2 separate regions of the Homo sapiens genome follow, and region 2 is linked to region 1. A link means that fine-mapping ties the variant in region 1 to the expression of a gene that starts in the linked region. Tissue or cell type: whole blood. Region 1 holds a variant in brackets; the other region holds the start of a gene. All regions are shown on one strand. Distances are from middle to middle.

What was found. PIP is the estimated chance that this variant, and not a neighbour inherited with it, causes the effect.
Region 2: it holds the start of NCALD, and the variant in region 1 is fine-mapped to the expression of NCALD in whole blood (INTERVAL, PIP above 0.99).

The regions. Positions count from the first base shown.
Region 1 is chr8:102,095,784-102,103,641 of GRCh38, reverse strand. It overlaps a transcript of NCALD not described here. Among named protein-coding and RNA genes, the nearest start is that of MIR5680, 26 kb to the left of the region's middle. RefSeq lists enhancers at 5,602-5,651, 5,662-5,821. The variant TA/A (reference allele first, on the strand shown) is at 4,014.
Region 2 is chr8:101,786,749-101,794,606 of GRCh38, reverse strand. It overlaps NCALD (neurocalcin delta), which reads left to right and starts at 3,638. Exons shown (of 4, transcript NM_032041.3): 1 at 3,638-3,745. RefSeq lists enhancers at 6,482-7,028, 7,029-7,575.

The DNA of each region.
Region 1 (7,858 bases):
TCAAGGCTGCAGTGAGCTGTGACTGCACCACCACCCTCCAGGCTGAGTGGCATAGTAAGACCATGTCTCAAAAAAAAGAAAGAAAAGAGAAGAAAAGAAAACAAAAACAACCAACATGGGCTCTAGGGTCTGACTGCCTGGGTTTGAATCCTGGTGGTGTCTTGCTAGCTGCGTCACTATGGGCAAGTTACTTAACCCTCCTGAGCCTTTATCTCTAATAGTTTTATATAATTTTCCTAACACTGTGCGGTATGGACTGTCATTATTCTCTCTTTTAAGAGAGAATTGGGTGTTAGGGAAATTATATAAAACTATTAGAACTGTGCCCATCCTGTAGTAAGCAAACACTCACTAGGTGTTAACTTATTAATAGGATTTGAACAGGCAGAGAAAGGGTAGAGTGTGTTTAGGGAGAAGAGAGGTGGCAATCGTTGGCAAGTACAGTAGAGGGGAGGGAAGGCACGGGGACAGCTGGGAGGTTGGCGTGGAGCTGAGTCCACCAAGGTTCCTTTCCTCTGAGTCTGTATTTTCCACAGAGTCTCCCCTTACTCATCTGGTTTCCCCAAAAGGACTTCAAAACCCAAGAGAAGCATATCTGGATCCACCCGACAATATGTTTCCCAGGATACTCAAGTAAAGTGGCCTTCTGGTTTATCAATCAGCGTCTTGAGCATTTAGTTGGCATGAGTTGGTCCCCTAGGGTCTCATCACTCCCGAGTGAACTGATAAAATCAAATTCCTGCATGTGCAGAGCTGAGGACCAGGCCTTGGACCTGTAGTGACCCCTGAGGGGCACAAGAATTGGGAGGCCCAGCTGGAAACCGAGAGCTCACCCACCCCTCTCTCTCTCCTCTCCCTTGATCTTGCCATTAAACTTTCATAAATGCAACGAACTGCATCCGAGACATCCGCTGGGGTTGGGCAGAGCCTGGTGTGCAGAAGGAGGAGCTCAGGAAGTGCTTCGGCAGTGGAGGAAGAACGCTCGCTGCTGCTGAGGCAATGGGCAGTGGAGCGGGGCTGGGGGGTCATGCCTCGGAAGCTGGGCTCCGGGTTCTGCTCCCTTTTTCCACTTGCTAGGTGCCTTTGGAAAAATCCCTTAACTGAGCCTCAGATACCTCATCTGTGCAATAAATACCAAATCTGAAGGCGGAAGACTGCTCCATGTCCTCTGGTGTCCCTGCCAGCTCTGACGCATGTGCCATAACAAGGGGACCCCCAGCAAGGGTTAGGGGTATTAGGGCACAAAATGTTTCCTCCCTGTGGAACTCAAGGGGAGCTGCAGGGTAGTTTCTGCCTCCGTCTCTGCGCTAATTGCTTCACGTTTGCTTTCCTCGTTGCCGTATTTGAAATGTGAGCTGTGTTGTTGGGTGGAGCGTTAATTGTGACAGGAGGATGGACACAATTTTTTTTTGTATTACCTGCTGTGCCCATCACAATTCTGAGCATTGAAAAGGTGCTCAATATACATTTGTTAAAATGAATTGAATATTATTGCCTAGCAATCAATGAATTACATCACATTCTTACTCAAAAGACATTATGTGCTTCATTTACAGTATAGCAATAATAAGAAAAACACTACAAATAAAATTGATTATTTTGAAGAATAGAGGATGAGTTTTAAGAGCTATGAGTTCTGTTTCAGAGTTGCATTTACTTAGTTACAACTCATGTTAGTTTGTTATAAGATGCTTTATTATTTAGAAGTCATTCTCCCACCCCCAGCTTCAACTCCATAAGATAGAAAATTAAAACATTGATTTTGTTTTAAAATTCAGGCTCCCACACAGCCCCATTTGTAAGAGTGAGAGGTGTTAATACTGCTAAGTTGCCCTTCATGTAATTTGGATAAATGCTGTTCACATCTTTATTATTCTACCCTTTCTTCAAAGGGGCATTCATTTCTAGTCTGAGACTAATGTGGGAATCTATTACACTGGTCAATAAATGAACAGCCTGTTCTTATACATACAAGAATTCCAAAGGCTCTCATTTTAGCCACACAAAAGGAAAACAAAACACACACATAAAACACCCCATTTCCACTTGTTCAAAGCTTCCGAGAATAAGGTTATGGTTGCGATATATTCCTAGGCCTTCCTTTGTGAATGCATACAGCAACACAATCTGGAAATAATTGCCTGCACAAGCTAATACTGTTAGGACTCGGCTTTCTGCCCTGGATCCAATGCAGCCTTCGTTTATAGAGGGCTGCTAATTCACCACTAAACCAGGTAGTCCACTAGAGGCCTGCAGACACCCTTTATTTGACTTGCAGTGTTTTAAAAACTTTTTAAAATTTGTTGCTAACTTAAAAAAAAGAGGATATTTTATAAAAATGCGGATTTCAGGCTTCTCCTGAAAAATCATAATATCCACATATAATACTGGGTCCAGTTCCTGCCTGACAGCAATTGGAGAGCTGAGTGATGCGTGTTCTCTTTAGAGAGGACGCGTGCACACTGGTCCTCACCCTTCTGTCTGTCACACATCCTGACTGGCTTCACGTGCCCATATGTCTGCCTGCTCCTTTAAGCATTTTTGAGGGTTTTTGTTGCTGGTCGTGGTATAAAATATGCAAAACATAAACTTTACCATTTTAACCATTTTTAAATGTACAGTTCAGTGGCATTAAGTACATTCACATTATTGTGCAACCATCACCACCATCCATCTCCAGAACTTCTTCATCTTCCCCAACTCAAACTCTGTAACTTACCATCAAACAACAACTCCCCACTTCCTCCTCCCCACAGCCCCTGACGACCACCGTTCTGCTCTATGAATTTGACTACTCTAGGCACCTCATATAAATGAAATCATACAATATTTGTCCTTCTATGACTGGCTTATTTCACTTACCATAATGTCCTCAAGGTTCACCCATGTTGTAGCATGTGTCAGAATTTCCTTTCTCTTTAAGGTTGAATAATGTCTCACTGTATGTATATACCTCGTTTTGTTTATCCACTCATCTGTTGGTGAACGTTTGGGTTCCTTCCACCTATTGGCTAATGTGAATAATGCTGCCGTGAACATGTGTGTAAACTCTCTGAGTCCCTCAAGCATTTATGTTTCTTGACGATTTTCTCAAAAATTTCCCAGCTCTGCTCTTGTAACTCCAGCTTTTGTTTCTCTCAGTGGTGCCCCAAAGCCTAAACATTCCAGGACTTCAGCTTAAATAATTAACTTTTGAGGAAGCATTGAAAAACATTGAAAAAGACATCTCATGAAAATGACTTGGATTCTTTAAAATTGTTAAAAGTAGTTGCTGTGGGATTTTCAAGATTTAATGTCACATTAATAAAAGAATCTGGATATAACATTTTGTGATTTATTCCTCCTTGAGTTTAGTTATGAAAAGCTCCTATTTGAGGAAGAAATTTGCAATATATTTGATTGTTTTGATCTGAACAAAACTTGTTCATCTTGGTTTGTGTGCTATGTATGCTGAAGAGGCCTTTTGTTGTAAGTGTTGATAAATGAGGAATATGAAAATAATTTAGGTTTTATTTCTGAATTTTCATGTTGCATTAAGCTAGGAAAAGTGTGATTTTTTTTTCAGTGAGTATTAAATGGAAAGGACAAAACAAAGTTTTTGCTCTTAGTTTTCAGAGACTGCTATTTCTTTTTCTTCTTCTTCTTCTTTTTTTTTTTTTTGAGACAGAGTCTTGCTCTGTCTTACTCTGTTGTCCAGGCTGGAGTGCAGTGATGCAATCTCAGCTCACTGCAACCTCTGTCTCCCGGGTTCAAGTGATTCTCCTGTCTCAGCCTCCTGAGTAGCTGGGATTACAAGTGTGCACTGCTTTGGTAATTTTTTTGGTAATTTTAGTAGAGATAGGGTTTTTTTGGGTAATTTTAGTAGAGATGGGGTTTCACCATGTTGGCCAGGCTGGTCTCAAACTCCTGACCTCAGGCAATCCACCCACCTTGGCCTCTGAAAATCCTGGGATTATAGGCGTGAGCCACGGTGCCCAGCTGAGAGATTGCTATTTCTGATTTTTTTTTTTTTT[TA/A]TTAATGACAACATCAACCTAAATGTCATTATCTGACAGAAGCACATGGCAATTCAACTTCATTATTGTGGGAACAAAATCTTGATGTCAAGATTTAAGGATCAATTGTATATCTTGATATGGGCATATTGTCTCTTGATAAGGACTTGGCTCTCCCTGTTTACTTATGTTAAAATGAATACATTTAAATTTCAAGACATGTAGGGGAAATCCCTAAAGTTAAGATCTAACATTCTTGTCTCATCTAAGTGTGTTGCACTTTGGAATGTTCTTTTCCACCTGCTCCCCATTCTCTAAAGATACTGTTAGTGACTGTGTGAAAGAATTCTTTCCCTTGACAAGTCTTTGGTGCCTTGGACTATTGGTGTAGCATGGATTAGTAAAGGAGGCCATTTTTACTACTCAGGACTGTTTTGTTTGCAGGAGACAGATATCTAACTCAAATTGCTTAGACAAAATAGCTTGGATAACTGAACATTCCAGAGATGGAATTCAGATCCATTTGGATCAAGGTATACAAAGAATGTTAGGAACCTGTCTTTCTCACACTTTCTACCTCCCATCTCTGCTTTCATCTGTGTTGACCGAATTCTCAGTTGGTTCTCTCCAATAGGGAAGCCAACATGGCCATCAACAGCTCCAGGTTCACAACACCCTCACAATTAACAAGCTTAGAAAAAGGAAAAAAACTTCTATAGTAGCTCTGACAAAATTACCAGTGAGAGATGAAGTCAGTGTTGGGTTACATGCTCATCCCTGAGCCAATCACTGTGGCAGGGGATGAGTATCATAAGTGGCCAAACCTAGTTCATGTGGCCATCATGGTACAAGAAACTGAGGAGTGGCTGGTTAAATTCCAAGTGTTTGGGAGGGCAGGGTCTGGTGCCCTCCCTCCTCATAGGGAAGGCAGGGTCTGATGTCTGAAGAAGAAAAAAGATGCTTCAAAACTCTCTTAGGGGAAAGACCAGTTTTATTCATCCTTGTTTCTTTTAGGGTGAATGACACGAGGCCTACCAAAGTTGCTCAATTATGGTTGCTGATTAAATGAATGTATAAGGAGTGATTTAAGAGAGTTTAATTGAAGAATTATTTCTATGGGGTCAGCAAGGTTAAGGGAAACCAGTGAGGGATGATGCAGCCCCCCAGGGCCAGCAACTTGGGAAGCTGTTAGAATCCTCAGGCCAGAAGAGGCCGGGGAGGAAGAGTTCCTTGAGAAAGGATTAGCTGGAGAGGGAAGACTGGCAGGAGCTGAGCCTGGGGTTAGAGGAATGCACCATTGTCAAACTGGGGCCTGGTGAGGAGGAAATGGGGAGGATAAATACCCCAATTGCTCTCTCATCCCACCCTCCACCCTCTGCAGTCCTTCCCATTACCCCAGCCCATCTAGAAGCCAGAGGTAAGGGGACATAGTTAATTTAGCACATGAAGATCAGTCTCCAGGGATCTGGATGGGCAACTGGAGGTCATCCCAATCTTCTTTCTCACTCTCAGTTCTCTTTTGACTTAGTCCTAAAGCATATCTTGGATGTATTCACGCCCCACCCACCACCTTTCATACCCAAACACAGACTATACTTATTTTACTGCCTCATGCCACATGCCCTTTGCAGGGGCACAGAGATGGCTGTGCAGGAAGTGCCTTGCACATTGTGTGAATGACGTCTTCTGAAACTGTCGATTCACAGCGTGTTCTGTGGCCTGGCCTTTGCATTGCGTTGTGATTTGTGTTGGCTGCTGGTGAGGGTGGGAGAGTTCAAGGAAATAAGAAACAGATAGGGTGAAGGCTTGTCATGTCATCATTTAAAATTAGGAAATAATGGCCTGTTTAGTTTCAGGGGTGAAACTCTGATTTCTCAGGTTATCAGAGAGATGCTGTCAGAGCAGAGAGCAGGAAGACCAAGGTTTCAGTGCTAAAAATGATGAAATCAGTTGATAAGAGTCTTGTATAAGGAGGTACTTTTGAAAAGAGGTTATTGATGATTGCCAGAGAGGGATGCTAACAAGTAAGCAATATCCAGCTTCATGGAGGCATCCAGAACTGCTGGCCTTGGGCTTCATGACCCACGCAACTTCTGATGAAACAGCATCTACATGTCTCACCGGGAAGGGATCTGGAATAAATATCTTATGATGAGCCACAGAGCAAGCCACACAGCACAAAGCCAAAAGCAAGTAATAATATGGTCACCATGCACTTAAGCACCCGCGTGGTTGGAACTGGGTGTGGGGGACTTTGGTTGTGAGTAAGGACCCTGGCTCACAGGCTTGTTGTGCAGATGCATGAAATAATAGGTGGAAAATGCTCACAGACTATCAAGTGCAGTGTGAATGTTAGATGCCATGAATGAACTGATTCTTTGTCTTTCACTATTTTTTTTTCTCCTGTGCTAGTTCCTCTGTGGTTCCTAACTGTTAGTCTCACTTTTTAAAAATGTTTAGGCTGTGGGACTTAGGTAAACGAATACTATGAAATGTAGGTAAGCTATCTGGGAACTGGTGGTCTTCTTAAACCTCTAACATACATGACTTCTGGTGATGCTCATGTTTTCAGGGCTGTAATTGTATTTCCCAGAAGTCATCCACTATGTTTAGTATCTTTCCCCTTAAAATTCTTGTGTTGAAGTCTTAGGCCCCCAGTACCTCAGAATGTGACTATATTTGAAGATAGGGTCTTTAAAGAGGTAATTACGGTAAAATGAGGTCATCTTGTTACCAGTGGAGGGTGTCCAGGTTCTTGGCATTTTGAACAAATAATTGGACAAAATGCACAAAGCAGGGAAAGAATGAAGCGACAAAAGCAGAGATTTATTGAAAACAAAAGCACACTCTACAGGGTGGGAGTGGGCCCCAGCACAGGGGCTCAAGAGCCCAGATACAGAATCTTCCTGAGTCCAAATACCCTCTAGGGGTTTCCCATTGACCACTTGGTGCTCACCTCATGTAAATGAAGTGGTGGCCCGCCGTCAGTCTAATTGGTTGCAGAAAGCAATCAACCAGAGGCTGAAGTGAAGTTCCAAAGGTCACACTCCTATGCAAATGTCTGATTGGTTGCAAAAATCAACCAATCAGAGGTACTTTCAATTTCCCATCTGCTGTGCAGAAAAGGTGGGGGTTTGCAAAGGGAGTAGTCTCTGGTCCTTTTGTTACTTAGGCTGGAAAGTTAGGATTTTCCTTTCAATTCAGTTCTAGGAAGTCAGCATGAAATGGTCTTAGGTTCCCTGCCTCCAGACCCTATTTTCCTGCCTCAATCCTGGTGGGCCCTGATCCAATACTGGTGTCCTTATCGGAAGAGGAGATTAGGACACAGATACACACAGGGGAGACAACGTGAAGACACAGGGAGAGGAAGGCCACCTACAGTCAAGAGAGAGGCCTTAGAAGAAACCAACCCTGTGGTTGTGAGAAGCCAGTGTGAGTGCTCTTGAAAACTGATCTTTGCTCTTCAGCCTGCTGGCCTTGTTTTAGCCTCATCCCTTGGACCAGTATTTACCCTATAAGATTCTTCTTTGAACTTACCTTTTGGATCTTTGGATCAGTTTTCTGCCCTTTAGTGCCTGCTCATGTGACCATGCTCTTCATTATTAGAGGCAGGGGGACAAATGTTCAGGTTTACCCAGGCCTGGGGAGATTCCTGGGATGCAGGACCTTTAGGGCTAAACCTGGGATGTTCCTAGGTAAACTGGAATGAGTTGTTCACCTTGATAAGAGAGAAGCTTTGGCAAGATTTATTTATTTTGGCTTACTGGCTTTGTTGAAAGGTGACTAGTCTAACAGGATGTTATAACTATTGTTACAATTATTGTCTTTGAAATGTTTATACACATACATTTAGAAACTATTTTGA
Region 2 (7,858 bases), 310 kb after region 1:
AAAATTTTCCAACATCAACAGCAAGAACCGTTAAATACATCCACATATAACTTACATGTACTCATAACAAATATTTATTTATTTATGTATGAGTAGGGTTAAGTTTGATTTACTTGGAGCCATCCAGTTTTAGAAAAGTTTATGATAACTCAACATTTTTGTTCTTTCTTTTTTCTTCTTTTCCTTTTTTTGAGGTTGGGGGTTGGAGAGAGGCTCTCTTCCCTATTAGTAGGAAGAAAAAGGAACCATTTCTTTCTACTCTTCAACATTTATTTCCCAATAGTTGAGTCATTCAACATGGATTGAGGATTCACTGTGTTCTGGGTTGTGTGCTAACTGTAGTGTTGTACAGATGAATAAGATTTCATCCTTTCCCTGAAGATCTTTGTAGGCTTATCAGAGTCAGACAGATAAAGAAGAAATGACATACACACTTGAGCCATCTACCCTGTGGCAAGGTGTCAGAATTTTATAATATATTAACTTTATTATCCTCCAAACAACCTTAAGATGTAGGTACTGCAGCTCAGAGGACTTAAGTAGCTTGCTCAAGGTCCAGCCATAAAAAGATGAAATTTGAACCCAGTAGCTCTAAACAGTAGGTCCAGGCCTGCCCATTAACGTTAAGACAGAGGAGACAGCAACATCCCTATGTACAAACATCGACAAAAGACTGGTTAGAATTGCATGACCCAAACCACCTGTTAGTTCAGGTGTGTGAGCCCAGGTCAGACTGCTTGTTTAGTGGCATTTACCAGTTATTTCTGGCAAAGTGGTCAAACTAATAATAGGCAGCCTTGACATTTTTACAAAGAGTGAAAAATAAGATGCAGAACTATTTTTGAATGGATATTTTTAAATTTGGTGAATCATTTTCACCTTAAAAAATGACTTGTCAATTAGAAAATAAAATGGCACATATTCTCTTCAGTGTAGTGGGCTGTGATTGGAGAAAGCTCTCATGTGTATTTCCTGTGATACTTTCAACTACATTTGGGTTAATTAACCAAATTGGTAGGAATCTGAGCTCTAAAGAGATCACCATCATGCCTTCAACCTCACAGAAGACTGGTAGCTTCCTTCACTCTAAGAGGAAATTCTAAACCTAGGTAGTTTGCAAAGGAAAATGAGTAGGTAGGCAAATTACTTAATCTCTCTCTTCAGTTTCTGGTTGAAGCATGTTGTAGAAAAAAAGGGCTACATGCACCCACTTTTCATTTTGAAGGTCAGTTCACTGCATTTTTTTTTTTTTTTTTTGAGACGGAGTCTCACTCTGTCACCCAGGCTGGAGTGCAGTGGCATGATCTTGGCTCACTGCAACCTCCACCTCCCAGGTTCAAGCGATCCTCCTGCCTCAGCCTCCTGAGTAGCTGGGAATACAGGCATGTGCCACCATGCCTGGCTAATTTTTTGTATTTTTAATAGAGACGGGGTTTCACCGTGTTAGCCAGGATGGTCTTGATCTCCTGACCTTGTGATCCACCGGCCTCAGCCTCCCAAAGTGCTGGTATTACAGGCGTGAGCCACCATGCCCAGCCAGTTCACTGAATATTTTAATAGTTCACTGAATATTTTAATACTGCCCAAGGCAGTATAAAGTATACTTAGTCTTAAAAATGCTAAACCAGTCAAAGTAAAAGTGTTGGTTTTTTGCTAATTTTCAAATTAATCCATTTAAAGTCCTGAATTTTAGGCATTTTTTTTTTTTTTTAGAACTGAGAACTTCTTATTTCAGAAGACATCACCTATTAGCAGAATGTGGCACTGCAGTTTTTCTCTCTTAAATGCTAAAGCTGCATAAAGAGGAGGAAGAATTAATTAGGCAGCTATGGATTAGAGCCAGAGAGATGGTAAATTAAGCAGCTCAGAGAACGTGGGTCCAGGGAAAGCTAGAAGGGTATGTTTCTCTGCCTCTTCCGGTTCCCTCATTTGTATGATGTGCATTTCTGAACATAAAAGCAGAACAATAATTGGAACAAATTGTCAGTTTATGAATTGTGGCTGTTGGTGAAATCTGCCCCTAGTGAGGCTTTAGGTAGACATTGGATTCCATTGTCCTTGTTCAAACAGGTAAATTCCCAGCTGTCATTAATCTGAAATTAAAGGAGGAAAGTTCCTTATAGTTTGATTTCGGTTTTGCAGTGCCACAGCTAATCGCATCAGGAAAATAACTTTTTAAATAAAAATCTATCTTTTCTCCCAATTGGGGCTGGGACAGAAATAAAGGAAGATGAAAAGGAGGATGGAGTAGGACGATTCTATGACCAAGTGATTTGAACATTAGTCTTATTATTAAAGAAGCAATTTCTGATTCTACTAAAGAAATTTCATTCTTTTACAGTGACACAAATGTAATCTGCCTGGCTGACTTAGGTTCCATTTATATTTTGTAGCACCCCAGAGCTACTCTTTTTTATTTATTTATTTATTTTAAGAAACAGAATAGAAGTCGTTATAAGCCTAGCATATAAAGGTCCTTAGGGTTTTGAGGGCAGTCTCTTCTCCCCTGCCTTTTAACTCCTTGTCCTTTGTTTGGGCATACATTTTCTGAATGTCTTTTTCAGAGTACCTTCTTGTGAGTTTCATTGATTTTGTTTAATCGGCTTCCCATTAATTAAGAAAGAGAATTAACTGGGAAATAGGCACGTGTGCAGAGTTAAAAGTAAGCTAGGGTCGTCGTAAAGGAAATAAAGCTGATGTTAGAAAACATGTGAGATAACCCTTTCATTCTATGGCTCTGGGCTTTCATTACACTTTGTGTTTGTGGAACACTGGCCCTGTTTACTCAATGTTGAGTCTCAGCAAAGGGGTGTGGATGAGAGGACTCAAGAGGGGAGCATTTGGCACCCGTATGGCCCCAAAGCACAGTTTTCAGCTTACTCACATGGTTATTTTAAAGTAACACTGTTTTGAAACTCCTTCGGTCCTCATTTTTACCTAGACATTTTACAGTACAGGAATCCTGAATTTATGTTATCTGATGTCTACATCCTACTTGGTGTCAGGATCATTAGACTGTCTTACCTGTCTCTGAGTCATAAGCCACTGTCATGAACCCAAGCCACTGTTTTTTATTTTTCTTTCCATCACAAGCATGGTCTCAGTATATCCATGTAGACTCTGATATAGTTTTTAAAATACATTTTCTTCCAACCCCTCCCCCTGAGCTTCTGTTTTTATATATTTGCTTGCAAATAAGTTTAATTGGCTAAGAAAACTACTCCAGAATTTTTCAGTTTCTTTCCTTTTGTTATAGAGAAAGAGAGAGAGAGAGACATGCTTCATGCTGATGGTAGTGAAACAAATGAGAACTTCAGGGTGGCATATATTTTCCTGCAAGTAACTGTAGAGAAAAGACACCAAAGCCTTAAAGAGGAAAGTTGTAGGCATTCTGGAGTCACAACTTCGGGGGTTGAGGTTGTCAAGGAGCTGTCCGTGATGGTTCTATGGTGTGTGCGTACACACATACTCTCTCTCTCACACACACACACCACAGTGACAGATGACCTATTGAAATAATTTCAGAGCCGGTCTGTGGTTGCTACGACAACCAATGATCTCTTGGCTTTCATCTGGCCATGTGACAGGGACTTTGACGTCAGCTAGAGGCAGAGTCTGTGGCTGAGTCCACACAGTCAAAGGCTTGTGAGAATCTGGTGGATGCTGGACCTTGCTGCTGCTGCTACTGCTGTTTCCAGGGGCTGCAGAGCATGGACTGTTAAATCTTGCACTTCTTCTGAGTGAGGTAATTAGTTTGCTTTATATACAATAGTTAGATGTTTTTATAGCTCATTGTGGTTTTCCCCTCTCTCTTACCTCCTACAAGTTTGTATTCATGAGCAATTATTGTTGTACCAAGGGGAAAATGTGAAGCAGCTTCTAGTTGTGAATTTCAGGCAGGTTCTCTGGAATTTGGTTAAATTTGGATTAATGTTTTGTGAAGTAGGTTAAAATATAATCGTCTTGCTTGCTCAACACTTGCTAACATAACATTATTTAGACATACGGATTTTGCAGCTTGAGCCAAATATTCTCTCTTGAATTCCAGGAATCCTCCCTTCAGTATTGTTTTGGGTTTAAAAACTCCAGCATAGCCTTGCAATGTGTTTCTAACTTTTCTTTTTACAATTGCTACTCAATTCTGAATCAGCCTAAAATAGTTTGGAATTTGGTTTCTATCTTGTTTGCAGCATTCATATTTAGCAACAATAGGAACCACGGGAAATAACATTATAACTGAAACAAAAGTTGGGATTTTGCTTGTAAGTAAAACCTTTGGTATTCTGAAAGTACCAGGAAAAATTGTCAACAGTTTCCTGTTTAGAGAGAAATAATCGGGAATATGCCAAGGAAGTTGGGGTGGAACCTTTTACATGTGTGCATGCAATTGCTTTTTGGTTGTTAGAGCAAAGTGCATATTTCCAGTATCCTCCCCTGAAAATTCAGCTGTGAAGAGAATGGCATGAGGTGGTCTTTACTAAGGAGTCATGTAAGCTGTTGTTATTTTTAAAAATCGTCATAATTACCTAAAGAAAAAAACAATAGCCCTAAAATGAAAAGTATCATTGACACAAGTTCTACTTTAACTCAAACACAGATAGAAGTAGTCACTCACAATTTGCTCTGGATCTTAAATGAATAATTTGATAACTGTGATTAATAAGAATTTTTATCTCTTTATTCCTATAATACTATTTACTACAAATTGTTTTCTTTGTATTGTAGTTCCTTTCCTTCCCAAGTTTAGTAATTTCAGATTTTCTTTCATGACATACAGGTTGAATTGTTTTGGAGCTTCTAATTTAAAGAATACCTGTAGTACTGAAGTTAGCCAAAGTCTAGATTTATAACCAGGTGTCTAAATCTTACAAGTTTAACAGAAAAAGGGGCAAATTTTAGAGCACTACATGTAATACAGCTAGTATTTTAATTAGTAGAAGAAACTGGTTTAACTGTATATATGAATACCATATATTCACAGTGTGTGAATTATATCGTAATTTAGTGCAAGAATATATTGTTTTAATTTTTATGTTCTTTATTAGTTTCAGAATTCTAATAGCATTTATTTTACTCTTGGAGGTGAAAAATTTTGAACAGTATTTAGCTACAGTAATAAGTGAATAACTGTGGGTATATCAATAATTTCTCAGTAGCTTTCAATGAGTGAATATTCATTTAACTTGCTGGCATTTGACATGTCTGTTTTTGGTCAGGGTCTCCGTGGAGGATTTTCCAAAAGTCTAATGTGCTTTCATTCCAGGCACATCTACTGAGACATAATCTCATCACTTAATTGATCTCAAAATTATAATAACCCAGAGGCCATATTCTTAACACCCCTAGAAAAATGATAATTTATATGTAACATTTCAGTTGAGCACAGATAAGACCAGTAGCACCGTCATTTAACAGCACTATCTTTGATGAGGTACACTTTGACATTTACTTCTTTTACTCAAAATGTGGAATTATCATTATAGTTTTTCCAGGTAGCAGAGATTTTCTTGGTGCTGTCTCTATGACATTTTAAATTAAAGTCTTATAATAATTGTATTCAATGCTCTTTCAAAATAGACTATATTTCAGCGGTATGAAATACAAGAGAATAATTCAGCGTTGATGGCAAAATCTCAATGATGAAGTTTATCACTAAAAGAAAACAACCTATGCTGTGAAAGCAGAGATGCTCTAGAATCTACAGGTCTTTTCCTATGGGAAAATAAGAGAAAAAAAGACTGTCATCAGAATCATTTTACAGCATTGAGACTATGTTGATTTCAAGGTCATGTTTGTTGCAGCTTCAAAAGATGCTGGCAAGGAACGAGGTACTCTAGAAACCTGGCTGTTGCATTATTAAATATTTTGTGTATAGTTTCGGACATTCTTAACCCGTTTGGTGCTGTGGACCTCTTTGGCAGCCTGGTGAAGCCTATGTACTTTTCTCAGAATTATGTTTTTACATGCATAAAATAAAGTATGCAGGTTTACAAATCAAACCACTTTCATTCATTGAAAAACGTTAACTAAATTTTACAAAATTGTGATACATGCTTTGTTAGTAACACATTATTACATAATACAAACTAACAGCAGTTATAATAACTACCATAACTACCATAATTTTGAAGTAATGGTGAGCATAAAAGATATTTCAGGATATCTACAACAACTGTAAAATGAGGTGAAAATATCTGTGATTTCTCTTGGCAACAATATCACAGGTGCTGTGGCTTGTGGCCTACATTTTAATTGAAGGAAATACTAAATTTCAGTTTGAGGTTAGTGAAACTAAAGATATAATATTTTTCCCAACCAAGTTCCCCAGGCCCTCTTGAATTTTATCCACCCCTGAGTCAATTGATATGTACGTTAGTGATGCCAAAAGGTGATAGAACTGCACTGGACAAAACCCATCACCCCATTTCCACATTCGGTTCCACCGCATCGGATTTTATTCTTCGAGTGTGTGAATTTTGCAATGTTCTCTAAATTCTGCATGAAAAGGAATAATATGTTCACATAGCTACCAAATTGTAACTTTCTTTTATTTTCCTCCTTGAGATCCATTAACAACAGTCTTATGTCCCCTGGATTGGGAAACCCTTACCTGGTTAGACAGGGGTTAAGAGGAAAACTCATAGTGTTAGTACAAGTTATGCGAGTTAAAACCATGGGCCACAGAAGGTAGTTCATGTGCTCATAGCATTTGAAGCAAGCATTAAAGAATGCATGTGGCTTTCCAGCTTAATGTAAAGCACATACACGTGTGAATTGATCAATTGTCATGTTAATTCCAGATACTCAAGAGAGAGCCCTAAAGGTTTATCTGACAGAGGTCTCTAGGATGAGGCATGTTTGAAATTAAGCTGGAAGTGGAGACACTTCCCAAGTATCTGAATGCAGAACCTTATTTGGCTTATTGGATATTTAAGACCAATACAGGGGGTATTAATAGTATTGTTTAGTGTGACTTATGTAAGTAGTTGTCTCATTCAACATGTTTCTTTAAATGTGCAGAAAATAGTGCCTGATATTCCTCTCCAAACCAACAGCGTAACTTTGCAGTTGGTCAGCTGCCGTCACAGCCCTATATTCAGAATGTCCAAAGTCATCCTTTCTATGACATCAACACCCACTGTCTCCGCGTAAGAGAATGGGAGCTATGACATTTTGCACAAGCTGTTGTTTAAATTCAATCCAAATCCCTCGCATTTGAAATGGAAGCTTAGCAATTTGTCTTCGTGTGTTCTCAAAGGAATTACGAAAGAGATGTTCTCAAACGTTTCTTATTCTTTGGATTAGAAAAGAACACTTGCCTTGGGAGCTTTGAGTCTCTAGCAACTTGATAAAGAAACTTGGAAAAAGTTTAAAATCTCTGACTCCAGGCTGTACTGTTTGCTTCTCAAGCCAGGTGTTTGAAACTTTTCAAAAAGGAATGTGCCATTATTTTTCATAAAATCCACATTTATTTAACTGGTGCTTCATGATGGAAATCTAACTAGAAATAGCATTCCAAAATGTAGTATTTTTTATTGTTTTCAGAAGTGATACCATAAAAGTTAATGTTCACTAAGATTTTGATATAAAAATTATATGATAAATATTGAAATTCACTGGAGCCAAACTAAAAACAGTCTGCCCTTTTTATCTCAGTAGTGAACTTTAGGGGGTTTTTTGCATGTATTTTCATAAGTGCCTTTAAATAAAGACACGGCATCCCTTTAAAATTTAGTTTACATTAATGTAAACCAGAATATTCTCAGGTCACAATGCAGTTTTATATTTGATTTGTAGGAAATAAATCTCTAGCCTGAAAGACATTCCAGCTGTTGCCTGTCTTCATGGGAGGATTGTT